Linked DNA regions of Homo sapiens: region 1 is linked to region 2. The links come from fine-mapping of genetic effects on gene expression. A gene starts in region 2. The other region holds a variant in brackets. All regions are shown on one strand. Distances are from middle to middle.

Evidence for each region. PIP is the estimated chance that this variant, and not a neighbour inherited with it, causes the effect.
Region 1: its variant is fine-mapped to the expression of BRI3BP in whole blood (INTERVAL, PIP above 0.99).

What each region holds. Positions count from the first base shown.
Region 1 is chr12:125,158,769-125,174,902 of GRCh38, reverse strand. LOC105370053 (a long non-coding RNA gene) reads right to left here. Exons shown (of 3, transcript XR_945492.3): 3 at 13,884-14,390. Among named protein-coding and RNA genes, the nearest start is that of TMEM132B, 20 kb to the left of the region's middle. RefSeq lists an enhancer at 14,809-15,309. The variant T/C (reference allele first, on the strand shown) is at 8,511.
Region 2 is chr12:124,984,820-125,000,953 of GRCh38, reverse strand. It overlaps BRI3BP (BRI3 binding protein), which reads right to left and starts at 7,309. Exons shown (of 3, transcript NM_080626.6): 1 at 6,951-7,309. The coding sequence starts at 7,163. DHX37 (DEAH-box helicase 37) reads left to right here and starts at 11,823. Exons shown (of 27, transcript NM_032656.4): 1 at 11,823-12,037; 2 at 14,689-14,858. The coding sequence starts at 11,932. RefSeq lists enhancers at 5,110-5,249, 6,430-6,519, 8,239-8,739, 13,360-13,903 and silencers at 6,610-6,669, 6,680-6,929, 6,940-6,989, 7,090-7,139, 7,160-7,479 and 1 more.

The sequences.
Region 1 (16,134 bases), 170 kb before region 2:
CTTTGTAAGAAGCACAGAAAGCCCCGTTCTGCTTCTCCAGTCTTCCCGCTGGATGCAGATGGGCATTCTTTAAGTCTCCATCAATGTGGCAAAGAAAACGGCCAGCAAGAGGCCAGAGTTAGCCACCCCTCTGGTCAAGAGAAGGCTGAGGCTGCCATCCCTTGGTCCTGGGGAGGCCACTGGAGGGGACATTCGTTCCTGACTGGCCAGTGGCATCCTCCTTATCTCTGTATCAGAGCTAAATCCCTTTGGAGAATCACCTCCCTCGGGGCTCCCTGCACGCTCCTAGCCAGGGGTGGGCATGCAGCCAGGTCAGACCCATGAGACTCTCCCTTTCAAACACATCCATTGTAAGCAGGGATGCAGGAATAGGGCAGGAGGAGCAAGCTCACCTGGTACCACCCACTTCCAGCCTGGCTCTCCGTTTTACAGATGAGTTTTACAGCAGGTCTCCTGCTGACTCCGTGAGCCTCCCCATAGCTTGCCACCATTATCCACAGTTTGATTTCTGTCACTTGCAACCAAATTATCCTGTCTGGCACGGATTACTCCAGCCTCCCTGGGCCAGGTATGCTGGGGACAGGGTCGCTGCTCCAACAGTTTCTGCGGTGACCACAGGATGGGGGAGGAGGAGGCAGAAAAGTCAATGGATGTCACATAGATGTCCCTCTCCATGTCCTTTGATACTGCCTCTTGGGAAGCCTTGGGGTGAAGGGGAAACAGCACAGGCTCCCAGGTCAGAAACTATCACAGTTCAAATCCCAGCTCTGCCACTCACTGGCTGTGTGATCTCAGGCAGGCAGCTCAGCCTCTCTGAGCCTCAGTTTCACCATTTATACAATGGGGTTGGTGATGGCTGTTATGTCTTGAGTTGGGCTGAGGCTTGGAATATGTCCACAGATAAAGTGCTTGGCACATACTAGGTACTGGGTAAGGAGCAGCCATTATTAACTTACTGGGTTTTACAGTGGGGGGCAAGGGATACCCACACAGGAATTTGCTTTGGGCCTTACCCTTCCCCCACCAGCCCACCCCCCCCACTCCCACTGCACTCCGTCCTCTAAGGCATGGGTCAGCAAAGTTTTCCGTAAAGGGTGAGACAATAGGAAATAGTTTAGGCTTTGCAAACCATACAACATCTCTGTTGTAGATTCTTCTCTTTTTTTCCATTTAAACGTACAAAAACCATTCTTAGCTCAAGGGCCTTTACAGAAACTGGGGATGGGCTGGACTTGGCCCATGAACTGGAATCTGCTGGCCCCTGCCTAAGAAACAGCTCTGCTCATCCCAAAATAACACCTCCAAGCAAATCTGTGAGAGCTCCCTGGACGTTATGGAGCAGCAAGCACAGCATGGAGAACAGAGAAAACCAGGGGGTCTGCCATCAGTCACGCCCTGGGGTATGGGTCTGCCATCGGTCACGCCCTGGGGTATGGGTCTGCCATCAGTCACGCCCTGGGGTATGGGTCTGCCATCAGTCACCCTCTGGGGTATGGGTCTGCCATCAGTCACCCTCTGGGGTATGGGTCTGCCGTCAGTCACACCCTGGGGCGTGGGTCTGCCACCCAGTCACCCACCTGGGGCGTGGGTCTGCCATCAGTCACCCCCAAGGGCATGAGTCTACCATCTGGTCACCCCCAGGGGTGTGGGTCTGCCATCAGTCACCCCCAGGGACGTGGGTCTGCCATCCAGTCACCACCAGGGGCATCTCAGATGTACCTGTTCCTTCTTCAGAACCAAGCAAGGGGCCTCTCAGAACACAACTAAAAATAACTGATTGGTGCAGCCCCTATCCTGTGCAAGACACTGCCCGTGAATGATTTCACCAAATCAAGATATGCTGGATCTATCCCCATTCTGCAAATGAGGAAGGTGAGGCCCAGACAGGTCAAGTAACTGGACTAAGATCACACAGCTAACAAGTGTCAGAACCAAGATTTGAACGCCAAGCAGTCTTTCTACTCCCATCCTTGTTTTCTCCTATCTTTGTGATTTACAGGACAAACTCACCTTCCATCCCTAGATGTGGATGCTCTGAACCTGACACTGGCCACGGGCTGACCCTGAGGTCAGGGCTGCTTGGCTACTGCCACCACCGAGTGCCCACCAGCCCCTGGGGCCCCCTTGGACTGGGCCAGGAGCCCCCTCTCCCTATTGAAGCAAGGCCTAATTTCCAGAGCTCTTCGGGAGATCTCATGCAGCTAAAAGGAGAGGCTGTAAACACTAAATATAACTGCTTGAAGCAGCGCTGACAGCTCCTTGCAGAACAGGGCCCTGATTATATAACGAGGCTGCCTGGGGAAGGGAGACTTGTGCCTGCTCAGGTTTTTCCAAAAGAAAAAAGAAAAATCAGATAAAGAAAGTTAAAACTGTTCTCCTTAAACCTCATTCATTCATTCCCTGGACAGAAACTTATTACGCCCTGACTGTGAGCCAGGCACTATCACAGGCACTGGGGATGTGACAGCGGATCTCACACACAAAATTCCCTGTGCTTGTGAAGCCGCCAGCCTAGTGCAGGGAGACAGACCATAACCAAATAAATAAGTAAACTACGGAGCAGGGTGGGTGAAAACAACTGCAAAGTCAAACAGGCAAAGAGTATTTTTAGAGTGGAAGGGGATGATTTTAAGCAGGGAAGGGAGTCTGCAAAGATGACATTTGAGCAAATGCAGAGAGTGAGAGAAGGGGCCACTCAGGGGTCTACAGGGAGAGGCTCTCGGGCAGTGGGAGCAGAAAGTGCAAAAGCCCTAAGGTGGGACCATGCACCCATTACAGAGGCACAACTGAAGACCCATGGCCAGAAGAAGAGCGCTCCCAGCAACCGTAAGACAAAAGTTGTAGCCACCAACAAGCAGGTGTGGTTGGGCTGGCTGGGGTATGGAAATGGCTCTCATGGGGAAGAAGAATGAGCACTGATTCATTCCTACTTTCTTCCGTAGGCAGAGTTCTAGGGCAGCCCCTAAGATTCCTGCCCTGTCTAATCCCCAGGGGGCTGTGAATATGATGAATTTTACACCTGTAATTAGGTTGTCATAGGGTGCAGTTGACCCTGAGAAAGGGAAATTAGCCTGAGTGACCCCTTAAAAGAGACTGGACTCTTTCTGAAGTCAGCAATTTGAGGTGTGAGAGATTCAAATTGAGGGAGATTCTCTGCTGCTGGCTTTGAAGATGGGGGAGGCCAAGGAGGAGACATGTGGGGGCCTGTAGGAGCTAAAAGCAGCCCTGGCAGACAGCCAGCAAGGAAATGGGGACCCCAGTATGACCACCACAGAAACTCAACCCCCACATGACACAACTACACGAGCTTAGCAGAGGGTCCCAAGCTCCAGATGAGGACACAGCCCAGCCAACCCCTTAATTACAGCCTCGTGAGACCCTGAGCAGAACACCCTGCCAATGCCATGCCTGGACTCCCTATCTACAGAACTGGGAACTCATAAGTGGGTTTTGTTTTCAGCTGCTAAGTTTGGAGTAACTTGTTACATAGCAACAGAAAACAAATACATATTCATTAAATATCTTTGAGCACCTACTATATGCCAGGCCGTGTTAGGTGCTGGAGACATAGCCATGAGCAAGACAGACAAGACTCCTTCTACATGGAGCTTACATTCAAATTAGGAAAATGGACAATGGGCAAGAAATACACAATGGACACAATAATTCACAAGATAATGTGAGAGGGAGGTAATGCCAGGACAATGGCCTAACAGGCTGTTTCTTTTTCCTTTTAGGGTCTTGCTCTGTCACCCAGGCTGGAGTGCAGTGGCGTGATCATAGCTCCCTGCAGCCTTGAACTCCAGGCTCACGTGATCCTTCCACCTCAAACTCCCAAGTAGCTGGGACTATAGGTGTATGTCACCACTCCCCCCTAATTTTTTTTATTTTTTGCAGAGACAGGGTTTTGCCATCTTGCCCGGGCTGGTCTGGAACTCCTGGGTTCAAGTGATCTGCCCACCTCAGCCTCCCAAAGTGCTGGGATTACAGGTATGAGCCACCATGCCTGGCCAATGGGTTAAGTTTCAATGGCCCAAGCCAACAAACCAGCCCCAGCAGACAGAATCTTTAACCCAATCGCCTCTCCAAAGCCCTGTGTCATTTGCCCCACCCATCTCCAACCTCATCTCCTGTTGTTCTGTCCTCTCTCTTTGTGCTGGAGCCTCCTGGATATCCTTCTCTTCCCCAAACATACTATGCTGTTCCCACATCAGGGCCTTTGCACTCGCTGTTCCCTCTGCCCAGAACACCCTTCCCCCAGATCGCTGCATGGCTAGCTTCCTCTCACCTTTAAGGCTTCTCCTGAAATACTGCCTCCTCTGAGACCTTGTCTGACCACCCCATTTAAAGAAGACCTCCCACCCATGAAGCTAGTGATCTACCATGTTTTACTGTCTTTATAGCATGTGTCATTCTCCTAAGTTATTTGATTTATTAATTCACTTGATGGCTTATTTCCTCCCCTGGAATACAAGCTCTACTGCTGCAGAAACTGTCTTTTCATCACTATTTCCCTGAGACTAGAACAGTTCCTGGCCCAGCACAGACACTCAGGAAATATCTGTTGACTGAATGACTGGAAAATTCCTTTGATCAGCCAGTGGTTGTTTTTATTTCTTCCATGGGGAATAAAAAAAGCACTGAAAAAAGGAATAATTCATAGAAAAATGAAAATCCTAAGCAATAGTGAGACATCCATTTGCATAATGACAAGCATCTGATTTTTAATATAATTCCACCTCCGAAGTGAAATGTTCGCTATTCAGATGCAGCCAGGCCCCATGAAAGGGCTCAGATACACAGGAGCAGCAGTTACAAGGGTGGGAGTCAAAATCCTCCAGCGGCTGCTTCCCCGCCATCCCAACAGTCTCAGCTGCTGCCATCTAGAACTTGCCAGCTATTCCCGACACTGTCAGCTGTCTAATCCAACACCCGTTCCCAACTTCTTTCTTTCTCCCTTGCCTCCTCGCTCTAGAAGGGGTGGGAAAGCTAAATACCCCCTGCCGCAGACTCTCTTGCAGTTCTACTTCTGTCCCGTGAGATGAAATAAAACAGTCTGGAGATCATCTGGGGATCTCTGCTGCTGGCTCTGAAGATGGAGGAGCCCAATGAGAAGACACGTAGGGGGCCTCTAGGAGCTAAAAGCAGCCCTGGCAGACAGCCAGCAAGGCTACCTAAAAAAAGAACAGCGGTGCCTGACCAGGACCTATCCCTTTTTCCTGCTTAAATGTAGCCTTGATGGCTGGAGTCACAGCAATCATTTTGTGACCATGAGGAGAAGGGCAAGAGAATCACAGAGATTTTTGGTCCTTATGTCACTAAGCAGCTTTATCATTACCCATAAATAACCACCTCTAGAATTCTTGGTATATGAGAAAAATAAATCCTAACTACTCCACAGTGGTGGGGTTTCCTGGTGTTTGCAAGCAAAAACATTTCTTGCTAATATGCTGACTGTATGGGTACAAACAGCTTCGCTTAAGTGAATGAAAACTGTCTTTTGCCCAAAGCAATTGCATACCCATTATCCAACCTCATCATGGCAATATCCCCTGAGAGTTTGCATGGGCAGACTTTATATCCCCCACGTTAGGCAAAAAATCTGAGATTCAGAGAGATTAAGTGACCTGCCCCAGCATCACACCATGCAATGAAACTTGAAACTCAGAACTAAAACCTGGGCCAGGCACAGGCATTCACGCCTGTTATCCCGGCACTTTGGGAGGCCAAGGTGGGAGGAAAACTTGAGCCCAGGAATTCAAGACCAGTCTGGACAATATAGTGAGACCCCATCTTTACAAAAAATATATAAAAATTAGCTGGGCATGATGGTGCATGCTTGTGGTCCCAGCTACCTATGAGGCTGAGGCAGAAGGATCACTTGAGCCCAAGAGGTTAAGGCTGCTGTGAGCTATATCATGCCACTGCACCCCAGCCTGGGTGGCAGAGCAAGATTTCGTCTCAATAAATAAATAAATACTAAAACCTGGACTTCCAAATTTCCAATGCAACTTACAGAGAGACAAGAACCCATAATATAAAACAAGATCCCTGGGGCAGCTCTAATAAACCTAAAAAGAAAAACTTTCGTTGTAAATTTCTGCTTTAGGCTAAGAGAAAACTGTCATAACCCACTTAGAAACCCAGGACCCAAGTATTCCAGTCTCGAAGTAGTGTTGTGGTCAATGAACACTGTCCCTCAGCCAAAAGGGAACTCCAACGTAACTTACGGTCCTTATTTGCATTTTTTTTTTTTTTTGAGATGGGGTCTTGCTCTGTCGCCCAGGCTAGAGTGCAGTGGTGCGATCTTGACTCACTGCAACCTCCGCCTCCCGGGTTCACGCCATTCTCCTGCCTTAGCCTCCCGAGTAGCTGGGACCAAAGGCGCCTGCCACCATGCCCGGCTAATTTTTTGTATTTTTAGTAGAGACGGGGTTTCACTGTGTTAGCCAGGATGGTCTCGATCTCCTGACCTCGTGATCCGCCCGCCTCGGCCTCCCAAAGTGCTGGGATTACAGGCCTGAGCCACCGCGCCCGGCCCCTTATTTGCATTTCTTGAATGCTATAAAGGCAACACATGGTCCACAGAAATATTTCTTAAAATTCTCCTCCCCTCCCTGATCCATGTCCTTCACACTCCATACCTCCTCTAATTTCTCCAAACTCTCCCCAAACCTCTCCTCCCAGCCTCTTGGGTCCTTCTTCCTGTTCCACTTGTCAATTTATTGTCACTCGGCTCCAAACCCATCCTTCTTTGCCATGTTTGGTGATCCTGGAGCTGACCCCTGGAAACATTTCTCCTTTGCCAGCTGGTAGAATGTTCGGCTTTGTCCGTAGAAGGCATGGGTTACACTGTGCAGCTATACAGCAGGAGAGCCAATCCACTCTGGGTTCCTGTCCTCCTCTCCTACTGCAAGCAGCTCTTCTACCAGCAGCTCTCAGGCCAGCTTCTGTGACCCTCTCAGGCCATGCTCTCCTCACTTGGTGGCCATTTCCACAGTAGCCTTGAGGGACCCTCAGCTACACTGTCCCCACCCAGTGGCCACTTCTGCAGGAGCTCCAGCCATCCCCTCAGGCCATCCTCGCCCCACCCAGCAAGCAGCTTCAACCAACCACCTTTGACTCTGCCCTTGAACCATGCTCTCCCCACCTGGTGGGCATTTCTTAGAGAACAGCTGTGGCCACTCACATGCTCTGGCAATAGCAGATGGTGTATATGGACTAGCTGCAGGCTTCGTCGTCTGACAGTGTCCTCATCCAGCAAACTGCATGTTCTTGTAGTAGCTACATTCTCTTCGGAGAGGGCTGGTTCTTGGTCTCAGGGACTAGAATAGTTCTATATTCTTCACTTTCCATTTCCCCTCAGTCTAGAGGGAGTAATAACTTTTTTTTTTTTTTGAGACAGAGTCTCCCTCTGTTGCCCAGGCTAGAGCGCAGTGGTACAATCTCGGCTCACCGAAACCTCTGCCTCCCAGGTTCAAGCGATTCTCCTGCCTCAACCCCCCGAGTAGCTGGGACTACAGGCATGTGCCACCATACTCAGCTAGTTTTCATATTTTTAGTAGAGACGGGGTTTCACCATGTTGGCCAGGCTGGTCTCGAACTCCTGACCTTGTGATCCACCCGCCTCGGCCTCCCAAAGTGTTGGGATTGCAGGTGTGAGCCACCACACCTGGCAGTAGTAACTTTTTTATACCTAATATTTCTAGACCCCTTAGAGTCCTCTTTGACTCCATTAGTAAGTTAAGCACATCTTACTAGTTAATAATTCTTTTTTTGTTGTCTTGTCTTTTGTGTGTGTGTGTGTGTGTGTGTGTATGTGTGTGTGACAGTCTCTCTTTGTCACACAGGCTGGAGTGCAATGGTGCTATCTCGGCTCGCTGCAATCTCCGCCTCCCAGGTTCAAGCAATTCTCCTGCCTCAGCCTCCCCAGTAGCTGGGACTACAGACAGGTGCCACTACGCCCAGCTAATTTTTGTATTTTTAGTAGAGACGAGGTTTTGCCATGCTGGCCAGGCTGGTCTCAAACTCCTGACCTCAGGTGATTCACCTGCCTCGGCCTCCCAAAGTGCTGGGATTACAGGTGTGAGCCACCACACCTAGCCCTGTCGTCTTTTTTTTTTTTTTTTTTTTGAGACAGGGTCTTGCTCTGTCACCCAGGCTGGAGTGCAGTGGTGCTATCATAACTAACTGCATCCTCAGTCTCCTAGGCTCAAGCGATTCTCCCACCTCAGATTCCCAAGTATCTGAGACTACAGGCACGCATCACCATGCCCAACTGTTTTTTTATTTTTTGTAGAGACCCAAGCTGGTCTCAAACTCCTGGCTTCAAGTGATCCTCCCGCCTTGGCCTCCCAAAGTGCTGGGATTACATGTGTGAGCCACCATGCCCAGCAATAATTCTATATATTGGACTGTCCCAGTTCAAATTACCAATGTAGAATCAGTCAGGGTCTCCTGATTGGACCCTGGCTGATACAGAACTAGTTAAGAAAGTGGTTCTAGATACA[T/C]ACAGACCTCCAGGAGTGGGAGTTGGAGACTCGTCATGCCTTTGGAGTTGAGTGCCATGCTGGGATTTTGACCATGTGAAATGGGACACCAGTGACCCATAGCATGCAGTGCCATCACAGCGAATCAGCCACACCATCACCTGTGGTTGATTCTGACAAAGTGCTGACTGAAGCACATGCCTTGGGAAGGTAGGTGGCTGAGGCACTTGACATGATGCCCGTGACGATGCCCTCAAGGGCTGCAGTGTGGGATGGATGCTTCTGTGTGCACTGGAGCATCTACAGGAAAATAAAATAGAATCTCAGGTCCCTTAACTCATATCAAAGCACAGTCCTAGGGCCAAAGAGCTTCCCCGATGCCCTCAGTGAAAATTCTTATTTATTGTAGCCTGGCTTATTTACATTAGCCAGGGCTAGTGCTACTGAAAATAAAAAACACAATTGAATTGTGTGGGTTATGGAATTACACTAGGTGGATTCACAGCCTCACCACACTTCTCATGTGAAAGGTAGGACATTAAGGCCAGGCGCAGTGGCTCAGGCCTGTAAACCCAGCACTTTGGGAGACCAAGGCAGGTGGATCACCTGAGGTCAGGAGTTTGAGACCAGCCTGGCCAACATGGCGAAACCCCATCTCTACTAAAAATACAAAATTTAGCCAGGTGTGGTGGTGGGTGCCTGTAATCCCAGCTACTTGGGAGGCTGAGGCAGGAGAATCGCTTGAACCTGGGAGGCAGAGGTTGCAATGAGCCGAGATCATGCCATTGCACTCTAATCTAGGCCATAGAGCAAGACTCCATCTCAAAAAAAAAAAAAAAAGGTAGGACATTAAAAGGGATGCTGAAGCTTAGAATGGGGACATCTGGTGGGACTCAGATGAAACTGAGAATCTTGAACCCACAAGTCACTCTGAGCCTCTGTTGCCAAAGGAAGGAGCTTGCTCTGTTGTGTCTAAGGAGACTAGCTGTCCTTTTCTTGAAAACTGTATGACAATCTCACGTGAGGAGATGCCCATTCTCCTTCAGACCCACCACAACTACTACCTGTTGGCACCAGACTCATAAGTAGAATCTTAGATTTTTAGTACCCACTATGGCCTCAAATGAGATAGCTTTTACACCAAGAGAACTGCACGATTTTGCCAATATATATTGGCAGAAACCTAAGGAGTATGTGAGGGTGTCAGACCAAGGCAGGCAGAAGAACAGGAGCAGACTGAACTCACTGACCGAGGTGCACTAAGATTTTGGATATCATGGGTTAGTTTCCTTAGCTGGAGGTGGCTCTCAAAGCTTACTTGGTTGGTGGCTGGAACTAGGACTCCATGGTGGCCTAAGTTTAGTGAGCAGAGATGCCAGAGCTACCCTGGCATGCTATGGAGGAGGGAGTCCAAAGGCTTAGGGAGATTGGAGTGTTGAAAGGATTTACCATGGCAACCTGCACACCCACCCACCAACTACATCCCCCAGGAGACCCCAGAAAATGCTTTCTCTATGAAGGAGCTGAGAAATACATTCATGGGGGGAACACCTGCATCCTTAGAAGGTCTGTGGCTTTCTCCTTTATAGGCTAGGTATGATGGATCGGGGGTGTGCCCACCATTGATATGAGCTCCCAAGAGCAGAAGCCAAGAGGCAGTGCCCAACCTCCAGACGCAGTGCGAGCATACCCGCCATAAAGGACCGCACGACATGCCTGTGGTCAGCAAGCCCTGGCCTGTAGGAGGTTTGGCAAAGACTAACTGTCCCAAGATCCCTGCGACTGAAACAGATGAGAAGCCCGCCAGAGTATTGCTTGGGGACTCATTTCACAACAAAGGGAGTGGAGCAATGGGTTCAGGCCCATAGAATTAACCTCAAGGAGAAGGAAAAGAGTCAGAGGCACAGACGACAGGAGAGGCAAGAAACCAGCAGCCCCAGAGAAAGCAGCAAAGAGACAGCAGGTACTGTTGACTGTCCAGTTCCCAGGAGGCCAAGCTGTGTGTCCTGCCCTGGGGCCCCGTGTGAGACCCTGATAACCTCATGAGGCTGGGTGGTATCATGTGGGCTTTGTATTCTTTCCCCCTGTCTAGCAGATAATAGATCTGTGATTACTGGCTCAGGGCAGGGATGTGACTTTCACAAAAGCAGATACAAAAGCCTTTAAGTTTCATCCTTCTGTTTCTCTTTCTTTTTCTTTTTTTTTTTTTTTTGAAATAGAGTTTTGCTGTGTTGCCCAGGCTGGAGTGCAGTGGTGCGATCTCAGCTCACTGCAACCTCCACCTCCCTGGTTCAAGCAATTCTCCTGCCTCAGCCTCCTGGGTAGCTGGGATTACAGGCATGTACCACCACGCCCAGTTAATTTTTGTATTTTAGTAGAGACAGGTTTTCACCATGTTGGCCAGGCTGGTCTCGAACTCCTGACCTCAAATGATCCACCCGCCTCGGCACCCCAAAGTGCTGGGATTACAGGTGTGAGCCACCACGCTCAGCTTCCTTTTTTCTTTTTTCTTTTCTTTTTTTTTTTTTTGAGATGGAGTCTCACTCTGTTGCCCAGGCTGGAGTGAAGTGGCACGATCTCAGCTCACTGCAACCTCCGCCTCCCAGGTTCACGCCATTCTCCTGCCTCAGCCTCCCGAGTAGCTGGGACTACAGGCACCCGCCACCATGCGCGGCTTTTTTTATATTTTTAGTAGAGACGGGGTTTGACCATGTTAGCCAGGATGGTCTCGATCTCCTGACCTCATGATCTGCCCGCCTCGGCCCTGCAAAGTGCTGGGATTACAGGCGTGAGCCACCGCACCCAGCCTTCTTCTTTTTGTTTTTCAAAGACCCTAGCTCTTAGGTTCTGGAATCATAAAATGAAATGTCCATGGGAATCAGGCTAACTGCCGTATGTGAGTGAAATGGGGCCGGTGCAGGGCAATAGGGAGTGGACTAGACTGCAGTAAACTGGAGAGTGAACGCTCTGCTTCAAGACGTTCCAATTTAATCTTTTAAATACAACACTAGGGAACAGGTATAGGACTCCAGATTGACTGGGATTTTTTGAAATCACGGAGGAATCAGGGCTCAAAATAGAAATAAATCTGAGTGGTAGAAAAAGGAACGGGAATTGCTGCGGTAGACACCTGTCTTGTGTGTCCCCCTCCGTACGTTTGGAGAATCCCCCACTGTCTGAGTCTTCATGAGACACAGCAGCTGCCTCGCACAATAAATGCCAAATAATTTTAAAATAATAATGGTAGGCCGGGCACGGTAGCTCACGCCTGTAATCCCAGCACTTTGGGAGCCCAAGGCGGGCGGATCACGAGGTCAAGAGATCGAGACCATCCTAGCCAACATGGCGAAACCCTGTCTCTACTAAAAATACAAAAATTAGCTGGGCGTGGTGGCACCGCCTATAGTCCCAGCTACTCCAGAGGCTGAGGCAGGAGAATCGCTTGAACCCAGGAGGCGGAGGTTGCAGTGAGCCGAGAGCATGCCACTGCACTCCAGCCTGGCGACAGAGCGAGACTCCATCTCAAAATAATAATAATAATAATAATAATAATGGTAATAGCTAAAATTTAAAATGCTTACTCATCACCTCTTCTACACGCTTCACATATATTCTGTTATTTAGTTCACATAGCCCCCTCCCCCCACAGAGGTAGGCATGACTACACTATCCCCGTTTTGTAGATGAGCAAGCCGAGGCATGCATGGCGTCCAGGCTCACACAGATATGTGGCAGAGCCTGGATTCAAACCCAGTCTGGCTCCAGCATCCACGCACTTAATGCCTTGCCACCCCTCCAATGAGGGTATTAGCTTGTGACAGAGCTCGGCCAACCAGACTTGGAATCTGGAGCAATTGATCTGAAGAAGCAGAGACAGGGAGAAGCTATTCCGGTGTCAGCAACAATGTCGAATATCCAGGGACAGCAGGGCGGCGGTGATGATCAGCTCTGATGTTCTCTGGCTCTGTCGCCCATTGCCCGGCAGCAGTGGTAGCGACGGCCTCATCAGGCGAATTCCGTGGCATGCTTCCCTTTGTCTGCACGTCTTCTTTGGAGTCTATTTTTGCAGTTTCTCAACAACTCTGCGAGCTCTCCAGGTGTTGTTTCAATCAATTCCTTTTCCACTTGAGTCAGCTGGAGTCCGCCTTTGTTGCTCACACCCAGGTATCCCAACTGATGGGTCCCATTTGATGCACACCTGTGTCTGTGAACCCAGATCTGTGGCTGTGGCACTTACAATAAGCTCCCTTGTGACTCGAGCTTCTGTGGGAGGGATTCTGGTCTTTGCAGCTCTCCAGCCCTGGATTCGAATAACCCTGACTTTCCAAACTCTGAAGCCACACCAGGAGGGGAACAAGGCTGCAGGTCTACCCAGCCCTAGTACAATCACATCTGTTCAGGTGACAGTGGCCAGGACTGCTGCAGATAGTGCCATTATGGCCAGGTATTGAGCTGACCCAGATGAGGGTTTTCTTTTTTTTATCACATTTCACCATTATTAAGAATTAGCTCTGTGTCATTAGCACACCACGCTATCAACTCAAATCCATCCTACCATCTGGAAGAGGCTCACACGAACAGCATGGAGCCCAGATGGATGCTGTTAGGAGAGCTGTGAGCAGAGATCAACAGAGAGGGAGGGAGGGAGAGACAGAGAAAGACAGAGCAGACACAGAGAGAAATAGAGACAGACAGAAATAGAGAGACAGAGAGAGAGAAATAGAAAAACAAAGAGAAACAGGGAAAGAAAGGGAGAGACATAGAAAGAGGGGAAGGGAGAAAAAGACAAAGAGATAGTGAGAAATAGAGACAGCAATAGAAAAACAGAGAGAGACTTATAGAAAAGGGAAATCAGGAGGAGAATGGCGTGAACCCAGGAGGCGGAGCTTGCAGTGAGCCGAGATCATGCCACTGCACTCCAACCTGGGCGACAGAGCAAGACTCTGTCTCAAAAAAAAAAAAAAAAAAGAAAAGAAAAAGAAAAGGGAAATCAAAGAGGAGAGAGAGATAGACAGAGAGAGACAGAGAAGAGTGAGAAAGAGAAACAGAGGAAAGGGGGAGAGAGAGACAAAAAGACAACGAAAGAGATTGAGAGTGAGCAAGAGAGAGTTGTAAGGAGAGAAACTGAGTAGCAAGGACTGTAAGAGAGACAGACAGTGTCGAGGACACCCCGTGACAAGGAGAGATGGGATGTGTCAGGGCACCCTGGGACAAAGTTCCTGGGACAGATAAAGCCACGGCTGTGCTTCCCTCTCTCCCAGCCACCATGCCCAGCCTTGCAAAGGAAGGCGGGGCCCTCCTATTAAGGTGTCAAAGGTGAACAAGAATGAGGAACAACGCAAATGTCCATTAATAAGGGAGGGGCATAAATTACACAAGATTCATACAATGGAATACTATACAGAAACTGAATTTTAAAATATTGTTTTTAAAAAACCAAAAAAACAAAAGTTTAAAGGAAGAACTCTCCCTTGGGAGATGTGTTAGTCTATTCAGGACGCCACAACAAAATGCCTTAGTGGGTCGTTTATAAGCAATAGAAATTTATCGCTCACAGTTCTGGAGGCTGGGCAGTCCAAGGTCAATGTGCCAGCAGATTCCATGAGGGCCCACCCTCTGCATCACATGTGGCCCCTTCTTGCATCATCTTCGCTTGTTGGAAGGGGTGAACAAGCTCCCTTGGGCCTCCTTTATGAGGGCACTAATCCCAATCATGACAGTGGGGCCCTCATGACCTCGTCAGCTCCCAAAGGCCCCACCTCTTACTATCCCCAAGGTAGGGATTAGGTTTCCACATATGAATCTTCAGACCATAGCAGGAGACAACAGTCCTAATTATGCACAATTTGCTTCAACAGCTTCCCCTGCTCCTTCCTCAGCTTGGCATTTCTGGCGGGTGACCTAAGACAACAGAAGGGTGTCACTAAATCACATTTGGGGCTGTCACCATGGTTTCCAGAGGAGCCTCTGTGAAGCACATGTTTCCGCCTCCCTCATTGGAAGCTGGCCTTGAATCGGGGGCCTTTGGAGGAAGGCAGAAGGTTCTAGTGCAAGGAGGTGAACCCCTTTCCCTCTCACCTCCCCCCATCCCCATCCCTACCCACCCCCCAACACACACACACACACGGCCATGGCTGGGACAGTTAGCAAGTCCTTCCTCCAGCCTGGTCAGACCCAGAGCAGGAAGAGCGCTGTGACAGAGTCCCCTCCCAGAGCCATGCCTCAGCAGGCTATTCCCAGGCTGCTCACAAAGGCCCCATGAAGAACCAGGGCAGGAATCCATTTGCCATGTGCCCCCATTTTCTAGACACGGACACTGAGTCCCAAAAGGTGATGTGACAAGCTGGCTAAGAGCCAGGCCTTCTGCATTCACAGCCTGCCAAGGGGGCCAAGGCGGAGCCACAGTTTCTGCCTGCACAGCAGCCGTTCCCTTCCCTGCTGAGAGGAGGAGGCAGCTCTCCTTTGGTGAACTACAAAGGGATGTTGTTGAAAAGGGATGCTCCCGACCATGAGTGGTCACATGACCCAAGCCTAGCCAATCAGATTCACAGGGAGGGTTTGGGACAAGCTGGGTACCCTAATTTCCACCAATGAGAGTCAGGCCTGGGAGTTTTGCTGGAACCCTTGGTTCTGAGAAGGCCAGCTTCTTGAAAAATGCCCCTGGAGTGTTCTTGGGTTGCTGAAAAGCAGGCCCTGAGAGGAGGCCAGGAGGACAAGGGATATTGGGGGTGATTCCTGTGAAAGATAAAAGGTGGAGGAAGCAGAACTGGGAAGAAAAGCCTTCAGCCCCTGACATGAATCTGACGGCAGCTATCACAGCGAGGTCCGGTAAATTTATATTTATATTTATATTTATGTTTATATTTATAATATTATGAGATATAATACTCATCATCTAAAACATTTTGAGTACCATACTTAAACGTTTTCGTTTTTCCAGACTTGACCTTTGTACATCAAAGGAGGCTTCTTTACACCCCGCACAGCTTGGAAGGAGTCAGTGAGCAGAACTAGGCCCAGCCGCTGCCTTTGGTTTGTCTTCCTCTGAAGGAAAAATACGCCAGCAAAGACAACGTTCTATAACCCCGTTTGAGTGTCTCATTACAATTACATAATGATAATTGCCAGCTTTGTGTTCCATTTGGCAACTTGTTGAAGTAATTGAACAAAGTATAACTAATGAACACTTATAATGAAGTTCATAATTAGGTCCTTGAAACACTTGATATAAAAAAAATTTTCAGATTCTTTTTTTAAAAAAGCTGTACTCAAGTGAGGTGAAGTGAGGCAGACCCAGGAACTGGAGAAAGCTATGAATGGTTCCTCTGGTTTGAAAGGAAGAAAGCCCTGCAAATCATTACCCAGGTAACAGCACTGGACTCCTAGAGCCGATACACTAACTTGAAGGAGATGGTGGATGTGAGTGGCTAACGCGACGCTTGGCAGGCAGTAGGTGAACAAGAAATACTTGTTCCTTCCCTCCTGTTGGGCAGGAAGTTCACTGAGGGTAGACAGTGCTATCCATTACTGTCTATATTCTGTGGGGCCTTGTCTGGGAGACTGACACCCGGAGGTTCTTAGAAAGTGTAGCTAAAAAGAGAATATTGAACCTGCTGCTTCCTGAAGACCTTCTTCCCTGCCACTC
Region 2 (16,134 bases):
TTGGATTTTTTATGAGCTATAAAGACAATTTGAATATGGACTATCTGTTACAAAATACTGTACTATATTTAAGTTTCTTGGCTGAGACAATGGTATTGTGGTTCTGTAGGAAAAAGTATTAAGACGTCTGCAACTAACTTTCAAATGATCCTGCCAAAAAATAAAAATAAATGTGTGTGCATGTGTGTATGTGTCTATCGGATGTGTTTGCAGAGAAAAAAGTTTGAGGGGAAATGTAAGAACTGGTGACTTTAGGGGAGATGTTTGCAGCTATTCCTTGTTCTGTTCTTTCAGCATTTTAGTACTTTGAAAAATTATCAACATAAAAAATTATAGGAAACAGGCTGGGCGTGGTGGCTCACGCCTGTAATCCCAGCACTTTGGGAGGCCGAGGCAGGCAATCATGAGGTCAGGAGATCGAGACCATCCTGGCTAACATGGTGAAACCCCGTCTCTACTAAAAATACAAAAAATTAGCCGGGCGTGGTGGTGGGCGTCTGTAGTCCCAGCTACTCGGGAGGCTGAGGCAGGGGAAAGGTGTGAACCCGGGAGGCAGAGCTTGCAGTGAGCCGAGATTGCGCCACTGCACTCCAGCCTGGGTGGCAGAGCGAGACTCCCTCTCAAAAAAAAAAAAAAAAAAAAAAATCATATGAAACTTTATCTTAACTGTGGTAATTTTTCACAAGTGTGTATGTCAAAAGGTGTCAACCTGTACACTTTAAATACGCACAGTCTATTGAGGTGTAGTGCAATTACACCTCAAAAAAGCTGTTAAAATGTTGGTAGGGGAAAAAGGACTGGAAAGTGTCAAAGTTATTTTGCTCAAAATACTTTCTTGCAAACAGCAAAAAATGCAAACCTCTTTACAAAAAAAAAAAAAAAGCAAAAACAAAAGAACCCAACAGCTCAATAGAACGGCAAAAAAAAAAAAAAAAAAGAAAAACCAAAAGGCAGTTCCCAGAACATATCGATGGATTCTGAATAAATGAAAAGACCATCTGTCTCATACATAATAAAGCCAAAAAGTTTAATGAGGCTGGGTCGGGTGTCTCACACCTGTAATCCCAGCACTTTGGGAGGCCGAGGCGGGCGGATCACGAGGTCAGGAAATCGAGACCATCCTGGCGAACACAGTGAAACCCCGTCTCTACTAAAAACACACAAAAAAATTAGCTGGGCATGGTGGCAGGCGCCTGTAGTCCCAGCCACTTGGGAGGCTGAAGCAGAAGAATGGCATGAACCCAGGAGGTGGAGCTTGCAGTGAGCCGAAATTGCGCCACTGCACTCCAGCCTGGGCGACAGAGGGAGACTCCGTCTCAAGAAAAATAAATAAATAAATAAATAAAAATAAAAAATAAAAAACTTAGCAGGGCATGGCGGTGCAGACCTGTAATCCCAGCTACTTGAGAGGCTGATGCAGGAGGATCATTTGAGCCCGGGAGGTAGAGACTGCAGTGAGCCAAGATTGAGCTACTGCACTCCAGCCTGGGCGACAGAGGGAGACTCTGTTTCAGGGAAAAATAAAATAAAAATACAAAACAGTGCGCATAGTGCAAAATAAACAAAAACCAACAATAGGGAGCAGATCTATAGATCCATATATTTATACATGTTCAGAATATCTGGCTGCTTCGGGGAAGGGGGTGGTAGACGGGTCGGTAGTGGGAAGTGGAGTTAGTTTCTTAACCTTCAGAACTACATGAAATTGTATTCCATGCAACTACGACCAAGGAGCAAGGGAAAAAAGTACTAGTTTCTCGACCTGGCATTCAGGATGTTTCCACCACATCAGTCCAGCTATATTCTGCCTGAGAGGAATCATTTTCTCCACATACAGTAGGTGCTTGAAATTTTTCATTTGTTTGTTTTTTTTGGAGACAAAGAGTTTTGTGCTGTCCCTGAGGCTGGAGTACAGTGGTGTGATCACAGCTCACTGTAGTCTCAACCTCCCAGGATCAAGCGATCCTCCCTATGCAACCTCCCAAGTAGCTGGGACCACAGGTGTGCGCCACCATGCCTAGCCAAAGGTTTTGGTTTTTCGTAGAGATGGGGTCTCACTATGTTGCCCAGGCTGGTCTCAAACTCCTGGGCTCAAGCAATCCTCCCACCTAGGCCTCCCAAAGTGGTGGGATTACAGATGTGAGCCACTGCACCAGGCCAATTTTTTTAAAAAACTGTAGTCATATACACATAAAGTTGGCCATTTTAACCATTTTAAAGTGTACAATTCAGTGGCATGAGCACGTTCACAATATCATGCAACCATTATTATCTAGTTCCACAATCTGTCATCACCCCAAAAGGAAACCCTAGATCAATTAAGCAGTAATTCCCCCATTGCTCCCTCCCCCAGCCCCTGGCAACCACCCATCTGCTTTCTGTCTCTACGGATCTTCCTATTCCAGATATTTCATATGCTGTAAATGGAATCATATAATGTGTGCCCTTTCGTGACTGGCTTCTCTCATTTATTCAAGGTTCGTCCAAGTTGTAGCATATAGCAATACTTCATTCCTTTTTATGGCTGAATCATATTTCATTATACAGACACATCACATTTTATCCCTTCATCAGCTGATAAGACATTTGGGACATTTCCACTTTTTAGCTATTGTAAAAAGTGTTGCTATGAACACATGTGTATAAGTTGCTTAATAATTTTTTTTGAGACGGAGTCTCTGTTCCCCCGGCTTGAGTGCAGTGGGGCGACTCAACCTCACCGCAACGTCAGCCTCCCGGGCTCAATCTATTCTCCTGCCTCAGCCTCCCAAGTAGCTGGGATTACAGTCGTGCACCACCACGCCCAGCTAATTTTTTTTTTTTTTTTTTGAGACGGAGTTTCACTCGTTGCCCAGGCTGGCGCGCGCAACGGTGCAATCTTGGCTCACTGCAACGGCCGCCTCCCGGGTTCAAGCGATTCTCCTGCCTCAGGCTCCCAAGTAGCTGGGATTACAGGCATGCATCACCACGCCTGGCTAATTTTTTGTATTTGGTAGAGACAGGGTTTCACCATGTTGGTCAGGCTGGTCTTGAACTCCTGACCTCAGGTGATCCATCCACCTTGGCCTCCCAAAGTGCTAGGATTACAGGCGTGAGCCACCACACCTGGCCTAATTTTTGTATTTTTAGTAGAGACAGGGTTTCGCCATGTTGACCAGGCTGGTCTCGAGCTCCTGACTTCAGATGAGCTGCCCACCTTGGCCTCCCTAAGTGCTGGGATTACAGGTGTGAGCCACCATGCCAGGGCATCACTTAATAATTTTTAAAGGAATTAACAAGTCTATTACCTCCTACCAGACAAATTCCCTTCATATAGAAATATTCTACCATTTACTAAATGCTTATTCAGTCCCTGGCATTGTGCAGCCCAACCAATCTCCTTTAATTCCCCAATTTATCTCCTCTGAACAAATGGGACACAGATAAGTAAAGCAACTGGGTGGTGCACGGTGGTTCACGTCTGTAAATCCGGCACTTTGGGAGGCCGAGGCAGGCAGATCACCTGAAGTCATGAGATCGAGACCAGCCTGGCCAACACAGTGAAACCCTGTCTCTACTAAAAATACAAAAATTAGCTGGTCGTGGTGGCATCTGCCTGTAACCCCAGCTACTAGGGAGGCTGAAGCAGGAGAATTTCGTGAATCCGGGAGGCGGAGGTTGCAGTAAGCCGAGAGCTCGCCATTGCACTCCAGCCTGGGAGAAGAAGCGAGACTGCATCTCAAAAAAAAAAAAAAAAAAAGAGAAGTAAAGCAAAAAAAAAAGAGAAGTAAAGCAACTGGCTCAGGGTCACAGAGCGAGTGAGAAACAGCTAGGATTCAAACTCATGTCTGTTCCCATGCTCCAAACAGGATGGTCATAGGTGTATTTCAGACAAGTCCTAGATTAGAATATGGGAGGCCGGGCACGGTGGCTCAAGCCTCTAATCATAGCACTTTGGGAGGCTGAGGAGGGCGGATTACGAGGTCAGGAGTTCGAAACCAGCCTGGCCAACATGGTGAAACCCCATCTCTACTAAAAATACAAAAATTAGCCAGGCATGGTGGCACACACGCCTGTAATCCCAGCTACTCAGGGGGCTGAGGCAGGAGAATTGTTTGAACCTGGGCGGCAGAGGTTGCCATGAGCCAAGACTGAACCACTGCATTCCAGCCTGGGCGACAAAGCAATACTCCATCTCGGAAAAAAAAAAAAAAAAAGACTATGGGGTGTTTTTTTAAATACCATTAAACTTCACAAAGCAGGTTTGGCTCTAATTCGTAAACCCAGGCATGCTGAAAACTACAGTTGCTGGCAGACCCAGTTTTCCTTTATTTAAAATTCACAAAACAGGCTGGGCACGGTGGCTTACGCCTGTAATCCCAGCACTTTTGGAAGGCTGAGGTCGGCAGATCACTTGAGGTCAGGAGTTTGAGACCAGCCTGGCCAACATGATGAAACCTCATCTCTACCAAAAACATAAAAAATTAGCCGGATGTGGTGGTGCTCACTTGTAATCCCGGCTACTCACTTGTAATCCCGGCTACTCAGGAGGCTGAGGCAGGAGAATTGCTTGCCCAGGAGGCAGACGTTGCCGTGAGCCAAGATCGTGCCAACGCACTCCAGCCTGGGTGACAGAGTAAGAGTCTGTCTCAAAAAATAAATTAATTAATTAAATTTAAAAAAAAACCCATAAAATTAACAAAACAATATCCCCAAGCCTGGCCAGTGTGGGCTACACTCAGCAGGAAATAAAATAAGTCAGGCCAGGTGCAATGGCTCACACCTGTAATCCCAGCACTTTGGAAGGCCGAGGCGGGAGGATCACTTGAGGTCAGGAGTTTGAGACCAGACTGGTCAACATGGTGAAACCTCTTTTCTACTAAAAATACAAAACTTAGCCAGGCATGCTGGTGGACACCTGTAATCCCAACTACTTGGGAGGGTGAGTGGGGAAGATCGCTTGAACCTGGGAGGTGGAGGTTGTAGTGAGACGAGATCACTCCACTGCACTCCAGCCTGAGCAACAGAGCCAGACCTCCGTCTCAAAAAAACAAAAAGGAAAGAAGTCAGGTCAGCCTCTGGATGCTGTACTGACTCGGGGAACAGGGAAGGGGTCATGAAGCAGGAAAACAGGCGAGAGATACTAATGTGGGCTCCATGTCCACTCTGCCTAGGTTCACATCCTGGCTCTGCCACTCATCTGACCTGAAACCAGCCACTTCACTGCTCTGTGTCTCAGTTTCCTCATCTGTCAAATGGGAACAGTAACAGTACCTACTGCACAGGGTCATTCTAAGGATTACATAAGATTATTCTATCTACAAAAGCACTTAGTAATCATTAGTATCTCTATTAAAGGCACAAACCCCGGTTTAGCCCAGGAAGAGCTCTGACCCCCAGATTCGGAGATGCTCTGCCAGAATACAGATTGTCTTATTTAAGTAAAAGTCTTAAATAACCACTCGTATTTCATGTTTGTTGGCCTTAGATTGTCACATGGAACCACCGTCAGTTGAGACATGGGGATCCTGTGGTCACCCTGCGTGAAAAAGACAGGCTTATTTTTGCTCTAAAACAAATGATTTCTGCCTTCAAATAGCTCCGAAACGGCATCAAGAGGAAGTAAGTGAGACTCCCTGCACTCACACCCCTGATCCTTTCCCGCGCCAGACTCCAGGGCAACCTTTTCACATTCAGGCGTTCAGCCCTGCTTCCTTGCCCCTCTTTGGCCACCTACAAAGCGTTCTCTCCCCTACATGTATGAAGACACAGACCCACCTGTGCAAGAGGTGCCCCTGCCCACAGGAGAGGGAGGTCAAAACTTACTGTTTTCCTAACAAATTAACCTTTCATGTTATCCAGTAAGAACATGCAGTCAATCTGATTTCGGCCTTCATATTCCCTTCTATTCCCCACTCCCTCTCAATGAGCAGAAAACTTTAACTTTTTAGCCATGATTCTGGGCCAGGAAGGTACCAACTAGTCATAATTACAACCTCGCAATGAAGGGGAATGATTACTATCCCCATTTAACAAATAAAGAAACAAGCTCAAAGAAGTGAAGTCACTTCCCCAAAGTCATCCAACTGGTAGAGCTCCAACTTGAACCCAAACTTCTCTGACTCCAAAACCCCAGGAAGGCTGGCGGCAAGCAAGAGCCCCCTCCTCCCCAGGGAACAGCAAAGGAACCGCAATACCACACACAACTGTCCCCAGTAACTTCCTCCTTCTCAAGAGCTAGTCGGCGGACTTCGGCCCGGAATGGCACCCCTATCGCACCTAGCTCCAGAGAGCAGGAATTGGGGAAAACCCCCTGCGATCCTCCTGGGACTCAACACCCTTCCCAGGAGGCTGCAGGATCCGGGACCTCCCCAAACTAAACAAAAGGCTCCACGCGAAAGGCCCCGCACACAGTAGGTGCTCGGTTTCCCAAAGCCACCGAGCAAATCGCATTGCTCCCTTCTTTTCCTGTAAAGTAAAAACAACTCCAAGTATCTTCAAAGCAGGAGGAGGAGTGGGGCAGAAGGTCCCAGGGGAAGTGGGTCGGGATGCGAGGCTAGGACAAACCCGGGGTAGCTGGGGAGGGCGCAGCCGCGTGGGGACCGAGAGCGCCAGTGTGCTGCCTGGCTCACAGTAGGAGCCATTCAAACGCGGTGAATGAATGAATGAGACGCGCGGCAGGCGTCAGCGCAGCCGGGAGAGACTCTGGCTGCGCCGACCGCGGAGGCAAGGTCCAAGGAGAAGCGCGGCGCAGAGGAGAGGGCGCCCCGAGGCCCGGCCGCCCAGACCCGCACTGGTCAGGCCCGGCGGGGGCCGCAGGCGGCAGGCCCCGAGGCGCAGGCCGGACCCCCTCTTCCCGCGCGCTGGCCGGGCGGGCAGCCCCGGAGGCCGCGCTCCTCCCAGGTCGGCCCCGGTAGCCAGGTGCGTGGCGACCGGGGCAAGGTGACCGCGGGCGCGGGCCCGGCGCCCACCTTCTGAGCGGCGCGCACGTTGTCCTCGCCGAACAGGCTGCTGACGCTCTGGGAGAAGGTGTTGACCGTGCGGCGGTAGCTGTTCTTCTCCGCGCCGCCGCGGCCCCGCGCCCCCTGCGCGCCCGGGGCCAGCAGCCCGAGCAGCAGCAGCAGCAGCAGCAGCAGCAGGAGCCCGGCCCGGGCCAGGGGCCCGCCTGAGGCGCGCGCGCCCATGCTCGGCCGGCGGGGCGCGGGGTCGCGATGCGGGGTGAGGGCCGTGCGCTGGGCCGCAGCGGGCTCCGGCTAGGGCAAGGTTGGCGCGCTCGGGGGCCGCGCGCCGCGCCTTTACCCACAGCCGCCGCCGCCGCTGCTGCGCCACCTGCCCCGCCCCGCGCGCAAAGGCGCACGGCCCAGCCCACGCCGCGCCCCGCCCCCGGCGCGGGACCAACGCGACCCGGCCCCGGGGCCCCGCGCCCGCCTCCCGGAAGCCTGCCCCGACCCGGTGCGGCTTCTCATCATTTAAAAAAAAATTCTCTTTTTTAACTTATCCGTGGAAAAGCAACCCGTGCCTGTAAAACTTGCAACAGCTTCAACCAGGAAAGTGACTGCAACTGATTGAAAAACATGAAATAGACATATATGTAATCTCCCTGAATGTATTATAATGGTACCCCAAAATTCGCCCTCGTGGGCATCAGCTCATTCATCCTGAAAATTTTAAATAACAAGAAAGCATCAGGCATCCTCCTGCCCTTCCTGAATGAACTGTATTTCAGAGCCCCAAAATAGTTGGGGAGGGACTTTCTTTTACAAAGTCCAGCTAATACATGAGGATGAATGAGAGAATCCGAAAATTATTTGGCACCCCTCAATAGAATGATGGATTCACGCGATGATCATCAGAAATGGGTACAACCAAGAGGGGAGGGTTTGGCGGGGAACTTGAAAATGGAGGGGCTAAGCCGCGAAGTCCCGGTCCCGCCAATCGATCTTAGTGCCAGGAAGTACCAGCGCCACCTGCGATGGATTCTTGCCAAGACAAGTTGAGCATGAACCTGATGGGGCCTCTAGATCAAACCTACAGTTTACAGGAAATATGGCAGATAAGGAAAACTTAGAAGCAGCAGAAGCAACCAACCAACTCCAGCATGTGGGGCATTCTACCAAACAAACGACCCAGTTTGTTCAATAAATAATTGGTATAAAAGGTGAGCGAAGAGGAGGATAATTGGTTTTAAAGACTTAAGAGCCATAATAACCCATGCAATGCAAGGACCCTGTTTGCATCCTAAATCAAACAAATCAAGTCTAACCAACATTTTTTTTAGACAACCAAGAAAATAAAACTCAATTTTTGCCAATCCAAAGAATACAAAATGCTCTTATTTTTGAATTTACATTTTCTGGATTCCTAGTAAGATTTTCATAGATTTATTGGCCATTTGAATTACTTCTCTGTGAATTACCTATTCATATCCTTTGCACATTTTTTCCTGTATTGTTTATCTTTTTAAAAACTTTTTTGTAGGTCGGGTGCGGTGGTTAACGCCTGTGATTCCAGCACTTTGGGAGGCTGAGGCGGGTGACCTGAGGTCGGGAGTTCGAGACCAGCTTGACCAACATGGAGAAATCCCTCCGTCTCTACTAAAAATACAAAATGAGGCCAGGCGCCGTGGCTCACGCCTGTAATCCCAGCACTTTGGGAGGCCGAGGCGGGCGGATCACAAGGTCAGCAATTTGGGAGGCCGAGGCGGGCGGATCACGAGGTCAGGAGATCGAGACCATCCTGGCTAACACAGTGAAACCCCGTCTCTACTAAAAATACAATAGCCGGGCGTGGCGGCGGGCGCCGTAGTCCCAGCTACTCAGAGCCTGAGGCAGAAGAATGGCGTGAACCCGGGAGGCGGAAGTTGCAGTGAGCCGAGATCGTGCCACTGCACTCCAGCCTGGGCGACAGAGCGAGACTCCGTCTCAAAAAAAAAAAAAAAAAAAAAAAAAAATCCAAAATGAGCCAGTTATGGTGGTGCCTGCTTGTGATCCCAGCTACTCGGGAGGCTGAGGCAGGACAACCGCCTAAACCTGGGAGGCGGAGGTTGCAGTGAGCCGAGACTAAGCCACTGCACTCCAGCCTGGGCAACAAGAGTGAAACTCCGTCCCAAAAACAAAACAAAACAAAACAAAAACCTTTTTTTACGCCAGGTGTAGTGGCACAAGCTTGTTTTGGGAGGCCAAGGCAGGAGGATTGCTTGAACACAGGAGTTCGAGGCCAGCCTGGCCAACATAGTGAAACCTATCTCTATAAAAAATGATAATAATAATAATAATAATAAACTTTTTAATTAAGGTATAACATACAGAAAAATACACAATCATATAAATTTTTATGAATTTTCACAAACTGAATACCCAAGGTAACCAGCACCCAAATCAAGAAACGAAACATTACCAGTTCCCCCACGAAGCCTCCCTTTGTCCCCTCCCATTCACTATGTTCCTCTTAAAATTTAGGGGATTCATTTGCCTGTGTTTGAAGTTTATGTAAATGAACCACACAGTACTCTGGGGGTTGGCTTCTTTTGTTCAACTTTTTTTTTTATTTATTTTTTATTTTTTGAGACGGAGTCTTGCTCTGTTGCCCAGGCTGGAGTGCAGTGGCATGATCTCGGCTCACTGCAACCTCCGCCTCCGGGGTTCAAGCGATTCTCCTGCCTCAGCCTTCCGTGTAGCTGGGACTATAGGCACGCGCCACCACACCCGGCTAATGTTTGTATTTTTAGTGGAGACAGGTTTCGCCATGTTGGCCAGGCTGGTCTCAAACTCCTGACCTCAGGTGATCCGCCTGCCTTGGCCTCCCAAAGTGCTGGAATTACAGGCGTGAGCCACCACGCCCAGCTTTTGTTCAACTTTATATTTGTGAGATCCATCCATGCTGTTATGTATCTGCCTTCTTCTTGCTGTCTAGAATGGTCTATACCTTCTGGAAGGTAATTCACTGATATATTATATTTTAGAAGGAAATATAGGCAAGTGTACTACTACCTACTTAACATTTTTTAAACGTTTCTTAAACTTTTAATTTATTTAAATAAACATATTTAAAGAAGAAACTTTAGATCACTATCATCCTGAGCAACAAAATCCATAAAAACACAGATTTGAGCCTGGGTGCAGTGGCTCAGGCCCGTAATCTCATCATTTTGAGAGGCCAAGGTGGGCCGATCACTTGATGTCAGGAGTTTGAGACCATCCTGGCCAACATGGTGAGACCCCATCTCTACTAAAAATACAAAAATTAGATGGGCATCTTGGTGGGTGCCTGTAATCCCAGCTACTTGGAAGGCTGAGACAGGAGAATCGCTTGAACCCGAGAGGTGGAGGTTGCAGTGAGCCGAGACTGCTCCACTACACTCCAGCCTGGGCGTCAGAGGGAGAGTTCTGTCTCAAAAAAACAAAAACAAGCAAACAAACAAAAAACCCCATAGATTTGATACGCTAATTATGATTTTTTTAAACGTCATTCATTAAGGCCTTCACAGTGGCTTATGCCTGTAATTCCGGCACTTTGGGAGGCCGAGACAAACGGATCCCTTGAGCCCAGAATTTTGAGACCAGTCTAAGCAACATAGGGAGACACCATCTCTACAAAAAAATAGAAAAATTAGCCCGTCGTGGTGGTGTGTGCCTGTAGTCATAACTACTCAGGAGGCTGAGGTGGGAGGACAGGTCAAGGCTGCAGCGAGTGGTGATTGCACCACTGCACTCTGGCCTGGCCCACAGGGCGAGATCTCATCTCTTAAAAAAAAAAAAAAAAAAGTCGGGCGCGGTGGCTCATGCCTGTAATCCCAGCACTTTGGGAGGCCCAGGCAGGCAGATCACGAGGTCAGGAGTTTGAGACCAGCCTGGCCAACATGGTGAAACTCCGTCTCTACTAAAATACAAAAACTAGCTGGGGGTGGTGGCGGGCACCTGTAGTCCCAGCTACTCGGAAGGCTGAGGCAGGAGAATCGTTTAAACCCGGGAGGCAGAGGTTGCAGTGAGCCGAGATTGCTCCACTACACTCCAGCCTGGGCAACAAAGCCAGACCTTGTCTCAATAATAATAATAATGCATTGTTTCCCAGTGTGTTACAATGTGATGCGGTAATGGGAATTTAAAGTTATGTAATAGACAACTTTATTTTTTTTTTTTTGAGACAGAGTCTAGCTCTGTTGCCCAGGCTGAAGTGCAGTGGTGCAGTCTCGGCTCACTGCAACGTCCACCTCCCGGGTTCAATCAATTCTCTGCCTCAGCCTCCCAAGTAGCTGGGATTACAGACGCCTGCCACCAGGCCTAGCTAAATTTTTTTTGTATTTTTGGTAGAGACGGGGGTTTCACCATCTTGGCCAGGCTGGTCTTGAAATCCTGACCTCGTGATCCGCCCGCCTCGGCCTCCAAAAGTGCTGGGATTACAGGCGTGAGCCACCGCGCCCGTAGAGGCCTCCTTTTAGATCTTCCATCTATCCCTGTGATGGAAATATTTGGTGCCTTTTTAAAAGTACACGACTAATACGTTTCTTGTAGGAATATCAGAAAATACAGATGCGCAAACCAGGGTTGGGGGGAAGAAGTTTGGAGTACTGGGGGCGGGGTATATTTTAAAAGGTGGCAAAACACTTCCACTCCCAAGAAGCCAAATTAGTATCAGTAGATATAATTCATATTTAAACCCAGACTACCCCAAGCGAGAACAGCCCAGGACTTAAACTCCGGCCTCCGCTGGGACCTCAGGCCCCGCCTACTTCTCTAAATAGTCCCGCCCCCTGCCCGGCCCGGCTCCGCCTCTCCTCTTCGCTGGGTTTCTCTTGCAACCCCGCCCCTCAGCGGCAAAGTCAGTTACAGTTCTCGCGATAACACAACCCGGAAGTCTCACGGCCGGAGTTGGTGGTCTGGGAACCCACGTGGGCTGGGTTTCGGATTGCTCTGCTGGTCCGGCCGCTGGAGCGCCCACCCTGGCCTAGTCGCCATGGGGAAGCTGCGCCGGCGCTACAACATCAAGGGGCGCCAGCAGGCGGGCCCCGGACCCTCGAAGGGCCCCCCCGAGCCGCCCCCCGTGCAGCTGGAACTGGAGGGTAAGACATCCCCGGACCGGGGCTGGATTTCGGAGATTTCCCAGGGCGGCCTGTGCCCTGCCTTCAGGACTCTCGGGTGGGGATCCCAGAGGGGTGGGATGGATCATCTGGAATGGGGGAATGGGTCCCCCCATTCCAGATGATCCAAAGGAGAGGGGCTTAGTGACAGCCTAGTTTTAACAGTGTATATGGAATACCCGGGATTTCTCTCGCCCTCAAATAGTAACATGGAGAATTTGGCAAAAAAAACAGGAGTAGTTCCATCCCTTCCCATGACTTCGATTATAATCTCTTTATAATCTCCAGCGACCCCCAAATGTGTATTTTCAGCCCAGTCTTGTCTGCTCAGCTCCAGGCTGGCTGACATTTCTCTCAGACCCCTTTTTAGGAGTAGCCCTTATTACATGCCAGGCACTATTCTAGGCACTGGAGACATAGCAGAAAGGGAGATTTTTAGAAAATCCCTGAGTTTACCTGCTGTATAGGAGGAGACAGGCAAAGAATAAACATATAGAAATTTATGCGGCTATAGTGAGCAGATAAAACAGAAGAGGCCATTGGGTGGGTTGCAGCATCCCATAGAGTTGCTGGAGAAGACATCACTCTGTTAGAGTCAAGATCTGAAGGAGACCTGAGTGGCTGCCTGGAGATGAGAGAAAAAACAGGGGGCCAGGGCAGGTCGGGCCTGGACTGCAGTCTTGGCGAGGACTGGGGCTTTTTCTCTACGGGAGAGGGCAGCCATGGGAGCATTTAGAGCAGAGGAGGCGTGGTGGTGGGCACCTGTAGTCCCAGCTACTTGGGAGGCTGAGGCAGGAGAATGGCTTGAACCCAGGATACGGAGGTTGCAGTGAGCCAAGATCGCACCACTGTACTCTAGCCTGGGTGAGAGAGCGAGACTCCATCTCAAAAAAAAAAAAAAAAAAAAAAAAGTTCCACAGACAGGCTGGGAGTTGAGGCAGATCCCCTAACATCTCTGTGCCTTCGTTTTCACATCTGCAGAATGGGACCAGTAGCACACGTTGAGCAGCCTTAATCCAAAATACTCCAAAATTCAAAAGTTTTTGAGTGTCAACATGACACTTAAGGAAATGCTCATTGGAGCATTCCAGATTTCAAATTTTTAGATTAGGGATGCTCAACCAGTGAATAGAATACAGATGTTCCTAAAGCTAAAACAGGTCTGGTTCCTAGCATTTCTGGAAAGGGATATTTAACCTGTAGTAGCCGTCTTACCTCCTATCAGAGTTTTGGAGATGGTAATTTGGGAAAATATGTTGCTTTGAAAAGTAAAGAAAGGTTACAGAGGTGGGGTGTGTCCCAGGACAGGTGACAACCGTTATGATGGCAGTGACAATTCAGGATGGCACCTCAAAGACAGCCGTAGACACTGGGCTGACACTTGGAACTGGACCACCTGAGCAGAGGGGCTGAGGTCTCTCAGACCCAGAGATTTGGGGAAAGTTGTTTCTCACATCAGAACAGGACATTTCCATGTATCCCTGCCTTTCTCAGGGGCCAGAGGAATCTCATAAGAACATGACTCAGATTACCTTCTTTTATTTATTTATTTATTTGAGATGGAGCCTTGCTCTGTCGCCTAGGCTGGAGTGCAGTGGCGTGATCTCTGCTCACTGCAACCTCCACCTCCCGGGTTCAAGCAGTTCTCGTGCCTCAGCCTCCTGTGTAGCTGGGATTATAGGTGCATGCCATCACACCTGGCTAGTTTTTGTATTTTTTGTAGAGACGGGATTTTGCCATGTTGGCCAGGCTGGTCCCCAACTCCTGGCCTCAGGTGATTTTCCCAAAGTGCTGGGATTGCAGGCGTGCGCCACCGCGCCCGGCCCCACCGTACACTCTTAGGAGAACATCAGGCTGGGTGCAGTGGCTCACGCCTGTAATCCCAACACTTTGGGAGGCTGAGGCGGGTGGCTCACTTGGGGGTCAGGAGTTCGAGACCGCCTGGCTAAGATGGTAAAACCCCGTCTCTACTAAAAATACAAAAATTAGCTGGGGCGTGGTGGTACATGCCTGTAATCCCAGCTACTTGGGAGGCTGAGGCGGGAGAATTGCTGGAACCTGGGAGGCGGAGGTTGAAGTGAGCTGAGATTGCGCCACTGCACTCTAGTCTGGGGGACAAAGTGAGACACCGTCTCAAAAAAACAAAAAGAGAAAATCATAGTATTTTTTGGGGGGTTTTCTTTTTTTTGAGATGGAGTCTCACCCTGTCGCCCAGGCTGGAGTGCAGTGGCAAGATCTCGGCTCACTGCAACCTCCACCTCCCAGTTTCAAGAGATTCTCCTGTCTCAGCCTCCCAAATAGCTGGGATTGCAGGCACCCACCACCACACCTGGCTAATTTTTGTATTTTTAGTAGAGACAGGGTTTCGCCACATAGGCCAGGCTGGTCTCGAACTCCTGACCTCAAGTGAGCCACCTGCCTCAGCCTCCCAAAGTGCTGGGATTACAGGCATGAGCCCCTGCGCCAAGCCTTGAGAACATCATAGTATTGTTATGAAAATAGATTTGAGCTCACAGATCCCCCTGTTCCTGTGTGCAGACTCAGGAGGCCCCCATGCAAGTCAGGGGGCTTGTGGGAGGCGGGACCAGAGCTACCTCAAGGAGAATGGGGACTTAATAACTGTGCTCTCTCAGACAAGGACACGTTGAAGGGAGTTGATGCAAGCAACGCGCTCGTTCTACCGGGGAAGAAGAAAAAGAAGACCAAAGCCCCTCCCCTGTCGAAGAAGGAGAAGAAGCCTCTGACCAAGAAGGAGAAGAAAGTGCTGCAGAAAATCTTAGAACAGAAGGAGAAAAAGAGCCAGGTACACCCCACTCGGGCAGGGTCTGCAAGTGGCTCTCCAGCATAGAGAGAGATGGGGGGTCTCTCTCCTCCTGAGGGTGTCTCTGTGGTGCAACTAATAGAACTTTCTGGAATGAGGAAAATTCCAGTGCATGGTCCAGTGCGGTAGCCACTAACCACATATTGCTGTTGAGCACTTGAAATGCAGCTACTATGGCAGAGGAACTGAACTGAACTGTTCCGGAGAATGTCAAACTTTTTTCCTTGTTTTTTCTTCTTTTTTTTTTTTTAATTTAAATTTAATTTTTTTTTCTTTTTTGTTTTGTTCCCCCACCCCCGACATCTTTTCTGGCTCTACCAAACCTTAAAAAAATTTTTTTTTTTTGAGATGGAGTCTTGCTCTGTTGCCCAGGCTGGAGTGCAGTGAAATGATCTTGGGTTCTCCTGGTATCAAGTGATTCTCCTGCCTCAGCCTCCTGTGTAGCTGGGATTACAGGCGCGTGCCACCACGTCAGGCTATTTTTTTTTTTTTTTTTTGTATTTTTAGTAGAGGCGGGGTTTCATCATGTTAGCCAGGATGATCTTGATATCCTGACCTCGTGATCCGCCCGCCTCGGCCTCCCAAAGTGCTGGGATTACAGGCGTGAACCACCATGCCCAGCCAACCTTAATTTTTTCATAGAGGAAAAAAGTTTGTCATGGGAAATTCAAACATTTGCAAGGGAAATTCAAACATTTGCAAGAGTAAAGAGAACAGTATGATGAACTCCCATGTGCCCATCGCCAGCTCCAACATTGATCAGCCCCTGGTCAATCTTGGATTATCTCCACTGCTGGTCACTTTCCCACCTCTGGGTCATTTTGAAGCAAATCCCACATACAGTGAATCTGTACTAGTTTCCTGGGGATGTCATACAAATGACCACAAACTGAGGGGCTTAGGACAATAGAAATTTGTTCCTTCCCAGCTTAGGAGGCCAGAAGTCCGAGATCAAGGTATTGGCAGGGCGGTGCTCCTCACTGGGCTCAGGGGAGGGTCATTCCTGGCCTCTTCCTGCTCCTGGCGGCTCCAGGCGTTCCCTTGGCTTGTGGCTGCGTCACTCCAATCTCTGCCTCCCTCTTCCCTCGGCCTTTCCTCCGTGTGTCTCTTCGAAGGGCGCTTCTCATTGGATTTAGGTCGCGCTCAGATACTCAGGATCATCTCATCTTGAGATCCTTCACGTAATTACGTAATTACATCTACAAAACCTTTTTCCAAATAGGGTCACGTTCGCAAGTTCTGGGATACGAACACGTCT